Linked DNA regions of Homo sapiens. Each later gene encodes a partner of the first gene's protein in a complex. Each region holds a gene or a part of one and is shown on either strand. Other genes may lie near its edges.

The links. Proteins that work in one complex are often made in the same cells at the same time.
Region 2: TAF6L (region 1) and TADA3 share a complex: the UniProt entries of both Homo sapiens proteins name them as parts of the STAGA transcription coactivator-HAT complex.

Annotation. Positions count from the first base shown.
Region 1 is NC_000011.10:62,774,396-62,781,525, reverse strand, and holds part of TAF6L (TAF6-like RNA polymerase II p300/CBP-associated factor-associated factor 65 kDa subunit 6L), read right to left. Parts: intron 6,932-7,130; coding exon of another isoform or gene 6,861-6,931; intron 5,756-6,860; 5' UTR 5,743-5,755; coding exon 5,596-5,742; intron 5,143-5,595; coding exon 5,056-5,142; intron 3,549-5,055; coding exon 3,398-3,548; intron 3,242-3,397; coding exon 3,191-3,241; intron 2,658-3,190; coding exon 2,563-2,657; intron 1-2,562. UniProt on the Homo sapiens protein: Functions as a component of the PCAF complex. The PCAF complex is capable of efficiently acetylating histones in a nucleosomal context. The PCAF complex could be considered as the human version of the yeast SAGA complex.
Region 2 is NC_000003.12:9,779,379-9,782,515, forward strand, and holds the end of TADA3 (transcriptional adapter 3), read right to left. Parts: exon of another isoform or gene 2,305-3,137; coding exon of another isoform or gene 2,135-2,304; intron 1,172-2,134; coding exon 979-1,171; 3' UTR 589-978; downstream 1-588. UniProt on the Homo sapiens protein: Functions as a component of the PCAF complex. The PCAF complex is capable of efficiently acetylating histones in a nucleosomal context. The PCAF complex could be considered as the human version of the yeast SAGA complex.

The sequences.
Region 1 (7,130 bases):
ATTTTTTCTATTTTTTAGTAGAGACGGGGTTTCACCGTGTTAGCCAGGATGGTCGCGATCTCCTGACCTCGTGATCTGCCCACCTCAGCCTCCCAAAGTGCTGGGATTACAGGCGTGAGCCACCGCGCCCGGCCATCCAACATTTTTAACTGAGAAAGGCAATCTATAAAACCAGATGCTTAATATAATACCACTTAGGTTTTTATGAGAGTAATCATAGTTGATACAGAGAAAAAAAAGTAGGTGGAGGAATAGACTTTTCAGTTTCTTTTTCTTTTTTTTTTTTCTTTGAGATGGAGTCTCGCCCTGTCGCCCAGGCTGGAGTGCAGTGGCTCAATCTCAGCTCACTGCAACCTCTGCCTCCTGGGTTCAAGCAATTCTTCTGCCTCAGCCTCCCAAGTAGCTGGGATTACAGGCGCCCACCACCACGCCCAGCTAATTTTTGTATTTTTAGTAGAGACAGGGTTTTGCCATGTTGACCAGGCTAGTCTCGAACTCCCGGCCTCAAGCAATCCACCCGCCTCGGCCTCCCAAAGTGCTGAGATTACAGGCGTTAGCCACCGTGCCCGGCCCTTTTTTTTTTTTTTTTGAGATGGAGTCTCACTCTATTGCCCAGGCTGGAGTGCGGTGGCGCGATCTCGGCTCATTGCAACCTCTGCCTCTTGGGTTCAAGCGATTCTCCTGCATCAGCCTCGCAAGTAGCTAGGATTACAGACGCATGCCACCAAGCCCGGCTAATTTTCTGGTATTTTTAGTAGATATCCAACGGGAAATCACCATGTTGGCCAGGCTGGTCTCGAACTCCCGGCCTCACATGATCCACCCACCTCGGCCTCCCAAACTGCTGGGATTACAGGCGTGAACCACCGCACCCAGCCACTTTCTTTTTCTATGTTTTTATATTATATGTACTTCTACAGTAAACATGTACTAGTATTACTTTTTCGTTTTTCTTTGAGACGGAGTTTCGTTCTATCAGCCAGGCTGGAGTGCAGCAGCGTGATCTTTTTTTTTGAGATGAAGTTTTGTTCTTGTTGCCCAGGCTGGAGTGCAATGGCACAATCTCAGCTCACAGCAACCTCTGCCTCCCAGGTTCAAGCGATTCTCCTGCGTCAGCCTCCTGAGTAGCTGGGATTACAGGCGTCCACCACCACACGTGACTAATTTTTGTATTTTTAGTAGAGACGGGGTTTCACCATGTTAGCCAGGCTGGTCTTGAACTCCTGACCTCAGGTGATCCACCTGAGTGGTGTGATCTTGACTCACAGCAACCTCTGCCTCCTGGGTTCAAGCAATTCTCCTGCCTCAGCCTCCCGAGTAGCTGGGATTACAGGCACCCACCACAACAGCCAGTTAATTTTGTATTTTTAGTGAAGATGGGGTTTCACCATGTTGGACAGTCTGGTCTCGAACTCCTGACTTCAAGTGATCCGCCCACCTCTGCCTCCCAAAGTGCTGGGAGGCCAAGGAAGGATTGCTTGAGGGCAGGAGTTTCACCAGCCTGGGCAATACAGTGAGACCCTGTCTCTAAAAAAAAAAAAAAAAAAAATATATATATATATATATATATATAGGCTCACGCCTGTAATCCCACCACTTTGGGAGGCAGAGGCGGGTGGATCACCTGAGGTCAGGAGTTTGAGACCAGCCTGGCCAACACGGTGAAACCTCATCTCTACTAAAAATGCAAAAATTAGCCAGGCATGGTGGTATGCCCCTGTAATCCCAGCTACTTGGGAAGCTGAGGTGGGAGAATTGCTTGAACCCAAGAGGTAGAGGCTGCAGTGAGCCAACATCACACCACTGCACTCCGGCCTAGGTGACAGAGCAAGACCCCATCTTAAAAAAAATGTTTTTTTAATTAAAATAATAAATAAAAATTTAAATGTTCATAGAATTAGGCCGGGCACAGTGGCTCACACCTGTCATCCCAACACTTTGGGAGGCCAAGGCGGGTGGATCACCTGAGGTCGGGAGTTCGAGACCAGTCTGACCAACATGCTGAAACCCCCGTCTCTATTAAAAATATAAGGCTGGGCACGGTGGCTCACACTTGTAATCCCAGCACTTTAGGAGGCTGAGGCAGGTGGATCACAAGGTCAGGAGATCAAGACCATCCTGGCTAACACGGTGAAACCCCGTCTCTACTAAAAAATACAAAAAATTAGCCGGGTATGTTGGCGGGCACCTGTAGTCCCAGCTACTCGGGAGGCTAAGGCAGGAGAATGGCATGAACCCAGGAGACGGAGCTTGCAGTGAGCCGAGATCGCGCCACTGCACTCCAGCCTGGGTGACAATGCAAGACTCCGTTTCAAAAACAAAACAAAACAAAACAAAATTAGCCGGGCATGCTGGCACACGCCTGTAATCCCAGCTATTCAGGAGGCTGAGGCAGGAGAATCACTTGAACCTGGGAGGCAGAGGGTGCGGTGAGCTGAGATCATGCCATTGCACTCCAGCCTGGGCAACAAGAGCGAAACTCTGTCTCAAAAAAAAAAAAAAAAAACAGGTCTAGAATTTACAATTTCAACTTTGTGCCCCAACTTGGGCCCACTCGCTCACCTTCATCAGTTGCGGATCATCCCCTAGCACAGCACGAGTCACCTGGTGATAGTACTTGAGAAGGTCATCTGTCAGTGAAGACACAGCACTGGGCACTGCCAGAGGACAGGCAGGAAGCAGGGACAGGTGGAGAGCTGGCCCTCTCCTGGCCTCTCCAGCCTCCTCCCCCTCAACCACCATCCCCACACACATCCACAAGAAGCCTTTCTGACAGGACAACCAGGGCAAGAGACTGCTCTTAGAGCCTGCTCAGCCCTGACCATCTAGGCTCTGCACACCTCTGTGCTCTGTCCTGTCTTCCACCCACCCTCTGCCAGACGGACTCCTGAGAGCTTCAGGCTCTGTGAAGCTCTGCTCAGCATACCCTGGGGGTGAAACACCGCCCCAGCATGCTGCCCAGACTTCTGTCTTAGCATCCAACATGCTGCATTATGACTAGTTACAGGTCTGGGCCCCCATCTCCAACTCTGAGCCCTCCATGCAGAGCCCAGCGCCCACTCAGACCATGGCACAAGGCAGGCATGGGTAAACACATGTTAGACGCAGACTCGGGGGCACATAGGCACCACCCTCAGAACCTAAGGGAGAAAATTCATCCAAAGAGCCTGTTTCCTACATCACCCCTTACCCGATCCTTGAGGTGCCAGGTTCCCTTTGCCATCCAGGTAGGAGACATGAACTAGAAGCAGTGCAGAGAGATGTGTCAGCCTGGCGTTTTGCCCCTTAGAGTACCGCCTACCCCTCCAAGTTCTGCCTCTTCCACCAGCCAGCCCATCACCACTTCTCTTCACGGCCCAACTCCCATCCCCAACCCATGCAGGACCCCGGCAGCCACCTCTGACAGCTGTCTCAGCACAGCCTTTGGGGATGTTGGTAGCCAGGGCCAGCTCCACCAGGTTCACCTCTCGATCCTCAGGAAAGTAGAGTTCACCCTCCCTGGCGGGGCGCATGGGCAGTGCCTCCTGTGATCCGTAACCACACACAGCCTGAGGAAAAAGGGAATTGGAGAGCAGCCTGAATCCAGGGAGGGAGCAGGCGTCAGGATCCAGGATGAGGCTCCACTGACCAGAGCAGAGAGCCCACGTTTGAAGGAAGTCCAGAAGTCCCAAGAAAAGTGGTGGAAGCCTGGGACTCAGAGCCACCACTGGGGACTTGCCTGGAGCATCCGGGGCTCCCTGGGTCAAGGGAAAGAACATGGTCGCTCCTCCCATAACTGGAAGGGTCCTGAGCCCCACACCAAGCACTGGTCCTCCTTATTCACACTCACTCAACTTTGAAAACTCACTAATGTCTTCTAAACATAGCCTTCCTCTCTCAACTCACCGCTCCAGAAAAACCACACCATGAGGCCCTAACACCCACACTGTTGCTCAGGCTCCTCCCTTAGCCTGAATGCCTTCTTTTCCTCTTGGCCTAGTTTAAGCCAAGCTCAAGTTCTTCACCACCCTTTAAGGGCCAGCTCCAGTCCCACCTCCTCCAAAAAGCTTTCTCTAACCTCTGGGCCTCCAGTGGCCTCCTCTCCCTCTTTTCTGAACACATAGCCCAGGTGGGCTGGGCCTAGCACCTGGTCTGCTGTTGCTATCAGGGTCTTGCTTCCCTTATGTGTGCGTTTAGTCTTTTTTTCTTTTTTTTGTTTTGAGACAGAGTTTTGCTCTTTCGCCCAGGCTGGAATGCAGTGGCGTGATCTCGGCTCACTGCAACCTACGCCTTCCAGTTTCAAGCGATTCTCCTGCCTCAGCCTCCCAGGTAGTTGGGATTACAGGTGCCCACCACCACACCCAGCTAATTTTTGTGTTTTTTTGGTTGTTTTTTTTTTTGACATGGAGTCCTGCTCTGTCACCCAGGCTGGAGTACAGTGGCACAATCTCAGCTCACTGCAACCTCTGCCTCCCAGGTTCACGCGATTCTCCTGCCTCAGCATCCTGAGTAACTGGGGTTACAGGCGCCCACCGCCACGGCCAGCTAATTTTTGTATTTTTAGTAGAAACGAGGTTTCACCATGTTGGGCAGGTTGGTCTCAAACTCCTGACTTCGTGATCCGCCGGCCTCCACCTCCCAAAGTGCTGGGATTTTAGGTGTAAGCTCCTGTGCCCGGCCTTTTTTTTTTTTTTTTCTTTTTTTGAGACAGGGTCTTGCTCTGTTGCCCAGGCTGGAGTGCAATCTCAGCTCACCACAACCTCTGCCTGCTAGGTTCAAGCGATTCTCATGCCTCAGTTTCCTGACTAGATGGGATTACAGACATGTACCACCAGGCCCAGCTAATTTCTGTATTTTTAGTAAAGAAGGGGTTTCGCCATGTTGGCCAGGCTGGTCTTGAAGTCCTGGCCTCAAGTGATCCGCCCACCTCGGCCTCCCAAAGTGCTGGGATTACAGGCATGAGCCACCATGCCCGGCAGCGTTTGGTCTTAATGTCTCACCACATCGCCAGCCCTGAACTGGACATGGAAGTGGCCTCATGCCACCTGAGCCCTCTGTAGCCTGCACCCCACTCACCTCCACGCTGCTCCATCTGAGGGCCCTGTTGAAGTCCTCAACCGTCAGCTTCCGGCGTTTGGTGTGCTTCATGAACTGAGAGCTATTCTGGGAGGGAGGGAACAAAAGCCAGAGTCAAAGGATGTGAAGCAGGGGGCATGGGAAACCCCAAATGAAGTGGGCCAGACTGGAGAGAAGGCAAACAGGAGACCACGCTTAGGGATCAGAAGCCTAGATTCCGTCTCTGCTCCTGTACAAAAACACCCCCCGGGTGTCACATCTTCTGTCAACACCTCAGTTTCTCACATGCAGAATGTGAGTATCTACCCGCTCTGCCTGCCCAACAGGGCTGTTGTGAGGAGCACATGGGAAGATGCCTGGCAAGCGCTTTGTCTGCTGGAAGCCCAGACAGCTACAAGTAGAGTTCTGTAAAGGCATGGACTGTCTCTGTTGTATGGAGCAGGCACCCAGTGTACACTTGAATAAATCAGCGAGGGTGGAGGTTAGTAAAAAGGCAGAAACAAGGAAAGTTGGAGGTATCAGGGGGTGAGGGGAGTGTACCTGCGTGGCCTCTCTCAGACGATAGCACACGTCCTCTGCGAGCAGCGCCGCCACCTCATCGCTCAGCTCCAGGCCCGTGCTCTCCGCCATGAGCCGGACAGACTCCCGAGGGATCTCCACAAACCGCCGCTCTTCTCGCTCTGACATGGCCCCAGTGGAGCTGGGAGTGGAGAATGAAGACTGGAAAAGCTGCCCAGCCTCCCGGAGAGCCCAGGAGTGTGATCCAACACCCTCCACACCAGCCTTGCTGCTCGTGCTCTGGAGTTTCTAAACAAGGAGCTCTGAGTACCCAGATGAGGAAAGTGAGGCTCAGAGAAGGAAACAGACTGGCCAGTGGGTCAAGAACGGTGAAGCTAGACAAAGTCCAAAGTGTTGGGGTTCACAGAACTAGGTCCCATTCCTGCCCTGTCACCTTCTATGTGAATTTGGCCAAGGCCTTCATCAGTCTGAGCCCTTGTGTCCTAAACTGTAAAACAGGCACAATAATTCCTGCCCTCTCTAGCTCACAGGGTTGCTGTGAAAATGAGATGACTGATATGATTTGGCTGTGTCCCCGCACAAATCTCACCTTGAATTTTAATAATCCCCACGTGTCAAGAGCGGGACCAGGTGGAGATAACTGAATCAAGGGGACATTTTCCCCCATGCTGTTCTCCTGATAGTGAGTTCTCAAAAGATCTAATGGTTTTATAAAGAGCTTTTCCCCCTTTTGCTCGGCACTTCTCCTAGCTGCAGCCACATGAAGAAAGACATGTTTGCTTCCTCTTCCACCATGACTGTAAGTTTCCTGAGGCCTCCCCAGCATTGAGTCAGTTAAACCTCTTTCCTTTATACATTACCCAGTCTTTTCTTTTTTTTTTTTTTTTTTGAGACAGAGTCTCGCTCTGGCGCCAGGCTGGAGTGTAGCAGCGCGATCTCAGCTCACTGCAACCTCCGCCTCCCGGGTTCAAGTAATTATCTGCCTCAGCCTCCTGAGTAGCTGGGATTACAGGTACCTGCCACCACGCCCGGATGGCTAAATTTTTTTTTTTTTTTTTTTGAGACGGAGTTTTGTTCTTGTTGCCCCCAACTCTCCTGCCTCAGCCTCCCAAGTAGCTGGGATTACAGGCACGTGCCACCACGCCCAGCTAATTTTTGTATTTTTAGTAGAAACAAGATTTCGCCATGTTGGCCAGGCTGGATAGTAGCTGGGCTTTCTGCCTATGTGTTTGGTCTTCCCCAGTTTGGCTGCAGTGCCTAAATGCTGGAACCTGTTTTGTTCACAGGGTATAGCACAATAAGAAACCGACAAAAACAGCAGCTGATGACTCACTCCAACAACGCACAGCACCAGAAGGTAGGCTCCCGTGCGCCAAAGTGATGCATCCACACCTCAGACAGGAAGGCCCAGATCCAGGATGACCCACCCAGGCATTGCCCCCACTACTCCTCTGGCAGGGGATCAATGGGTCACCAGTGACGTCCAGGTCCCTACATCCAATGGACAGCTATGTGGCTTCTGTGCAGCACTCCTCCCAATGGCTCCCCATTGTCTT
Region 2 (3,137 bases), on another chromosome or scaffold:
GTGCTGGATGTAAATGAGGAAGCATCTGGCCCCAACTGCTCCACTGCCACACTACAGCCAGAGAAGGACTCACCTTAGGCAGAGGTCGACACTGTGGAGGGCAGTGTGGTGACCCCTAAGAAACCTGGACCCTTGGGGGAGGGGGGAGGGAAAGCATTAGGAGATATACCTAATGTAAATGACGAGTTAATGGGTGCAGCACACCAACATGGCACATGTATACATATGTAACAAACCTGCACGTTGTACACATGTACCCTAGAACTTAAATTAAAAAAAAAAGAAACCTGGACCCTTGATGACCCTGAAGAATTGCTAGATTGGCTAACCGTGAAGGCCACTCTGTCCCAGGACTGCCCATCCTGCAGCCAACACATTTCCTTACTGTGAATCCACTTTGAGCTGGGGGGGCATTGTTACGTGCAGCCACAAGTATCCTCAGAAAGAGGTACTCAGAAAGTTCTCCCTGACTGAATGCCATGGGTTAGTGGCCATGGGCTGAGAGCCACCAAGCATACCCCCCACAAACCTTACCACCCACACTGGTTCCTTCCTCCCCACTGTAACAGACATTCAAAGACTGGATGCTTTTTTTGAAAAACCACAGCAGTCACTTTATTCTTAAGTTTGCACTTTACAAAACCACAAGGGAGAAGTCCTTGAAGGGGAGACAGGGGTAGGGGATTAGGGAGTGGGGGATGGTAAAGAGGGGAAGAGGAAGACCCAGAAACGAAGTCCCCTCCAACCCCATCTCGGGGACCAAGCAGAGACTAGGCCTCAGGCTAGCCCAGCAGGGCTTCCTGTGTCCTGGTTGTACAGAGCTAGGCCAAAAGACCTCAGGGGAAGGGCCACGGCCCTCTAGAGACTGCCGCCATTTGAGGGACAGCCACAGGCCAATGTTTCCTGTGCCCAAAGAAGGAAGTGGGCCTCCCTTCCCCTCCCCTAGGCCAGATAATCAGCCTGAGGCAGGGGTGAGGGCTACCCATCCAGCAGCTTCAGGATGCTCTCACGCTCCTTCAGAGTCTTCCAGGCCTGGTCCTTTTCTTTCTTGGTGGGAGTCCGCTTCTTCTGCCGGGCAGCCATGATCTTGCGAAAGGCGTCCATGACCTCGTTGTCAGCCATGCGCACCCGCTGCCTCAGCTCCTGCCGGCTCACCTCCTCCTTTGCCAGCCTGTGGGGACCAGCCAGCCAGGTGCCAGGGTCAGCCCACCTCCAGAGAACAACCCCTCCCTCTTCAAGACCGAGCCTACCCACCAGCCCAGGCTGGCATGCCTGTGGATTGTGTCATACAGTCGTGACCAAAAAGCAGTTACTGACCTACACTTACATGGCACTATCTTAAGCTCCTGAAAAATATTAACTCATGTTGATCACGGGGGAGGCTGTGCACATGTGGGGACAGGGAGATACGGGAATTCTCTGTACCTTTCTCTCAATTTTGTTGTGAACTTAAAACTGCTCTAGAAGAATAAAGTCTTGGCTGCACATGGGGGTTCACATCTGCAGTCCCAGCACTTTGGGAGCCCAAGGCAGAAGGATCACTTGAGCCCAGGAGTTCGAGACCAGTCTGAGCAACATAGTGAGACTGTCTCTACAAAAAATTTAAAAAATTAGCTGGGTGTGGTAGTGCACACCTGTAGTCCCAACTCCAAGGGAGCTGAGGATTGCTTGAGGCCAGGAGTTCAAGGTTACAGTGAACTATGATCATGCCACTACACTCCAGTCTGGGCAACAGAGCGTGACTGTGTCTTCAAAAAAAAAAAGGTCTTAAAAATATACACAGTAGGCTGGGCAAAGTAGCTCATGCCTGTAATCCCAGCGCTTTGGGAGATGGAGGCAGGAAGATCACTTGAAGCCAGGAGTTGAGACCAACCTCGGCAACAGAGTAAGACCCTGTCTCTAAAATATATATATATATACATACACACACACAAACACACACACACAGGCACACCCACTCTCTCTCTCTGTCTTTCAGTTAATCCTAACAACCCTGCAAAATATGTACTATTATTCATATGTTACCCGTGAGGAAAATGAGGCTCAAAGATGATCCCAGGATCCCACAGTTAGTGAGGGGGAGATCTGGAGCAGGCTGGGGCCAAACTCTTGTTTTTAAACACTGTTGTTTCAGGTGTTCCGGTGCCAGCAGAAGGCCTGCTTACGTCGGCATCTGCATTCCAGAGCCCCCTAAGGTCTAGGCAGCCTGAGGCTGACAGGAGGTGGGTGAGACACCAGATCAATCTCTCTGAACAGGGTCTGATTTATACATTTCATCGATGGTGGAGCTGGAAGGTCACTTAGTGATTGAGTCCAGCCTGCCAGTTTTCCAGAAGGGGAAGGAGATGCTCAGGTCAGGGGCTGCTTAAGGCCTTGCAGCTGCTCTGCAGCAGGGTAAGGGCTGTGCTCTGGTTTCCTGAGAGCTGCAAGCCATTTCTTCATTGCCCATTACTTCTTTTTTTTTTTTTTTTTTTTTTTTTGAGACAGGTCTCACTCTGTCACCCAGGCTGGAGTACAGTGGCCTGATCAAGCTCACTGCAGCCTCTACCTCCCAGGATCAAGCAATCCTCCCACATCAGCCTCCTGAGTAGGACTATAGGCATGTGCCACCATGCCTAGCTGATTTTTAAAAATTTTTAGTAGAGAAGGGGGTCTGACTACATTGCCCAGGCTAGTTTCGAACTCCTGAGCTCAAACAAGCCTCCCACCTCAGTCTCCCAAAGTGCTGGGATTACAGGCATGAGCCACCAGGCCCAGCTAGGGCCCACTACTTCTGTAACTGCACATGCCTGCTTTTCTCTCTCTTCCTCTCTCTCCCTCTGCTTCCCTCAGTGCCTCTTCCATCTGTGTTTTCTTCTTCTCACCTTTCAGAGAAAACAAACTATTATAGAAAGAGGCTTTGATTCAACCACAGGTTCAAGTCTCAGCTTGCTGTTTATTGACTGTGTGACCTTCAGCAGAGCATTTCGCTTCACTGGGCCTTTATTTCCTCATCTGGTAAACAACGAAAATAGCTCCTCCCTCCTGGGTTGTTGTCAAGACACTTGAGAGAGTGTACATAAAGCCCCTGACACACAGTAGGCCCTCAGCATACATTAGTCACTCTTATCCTTAAATACCCTGGCAGCTTGTCAGCA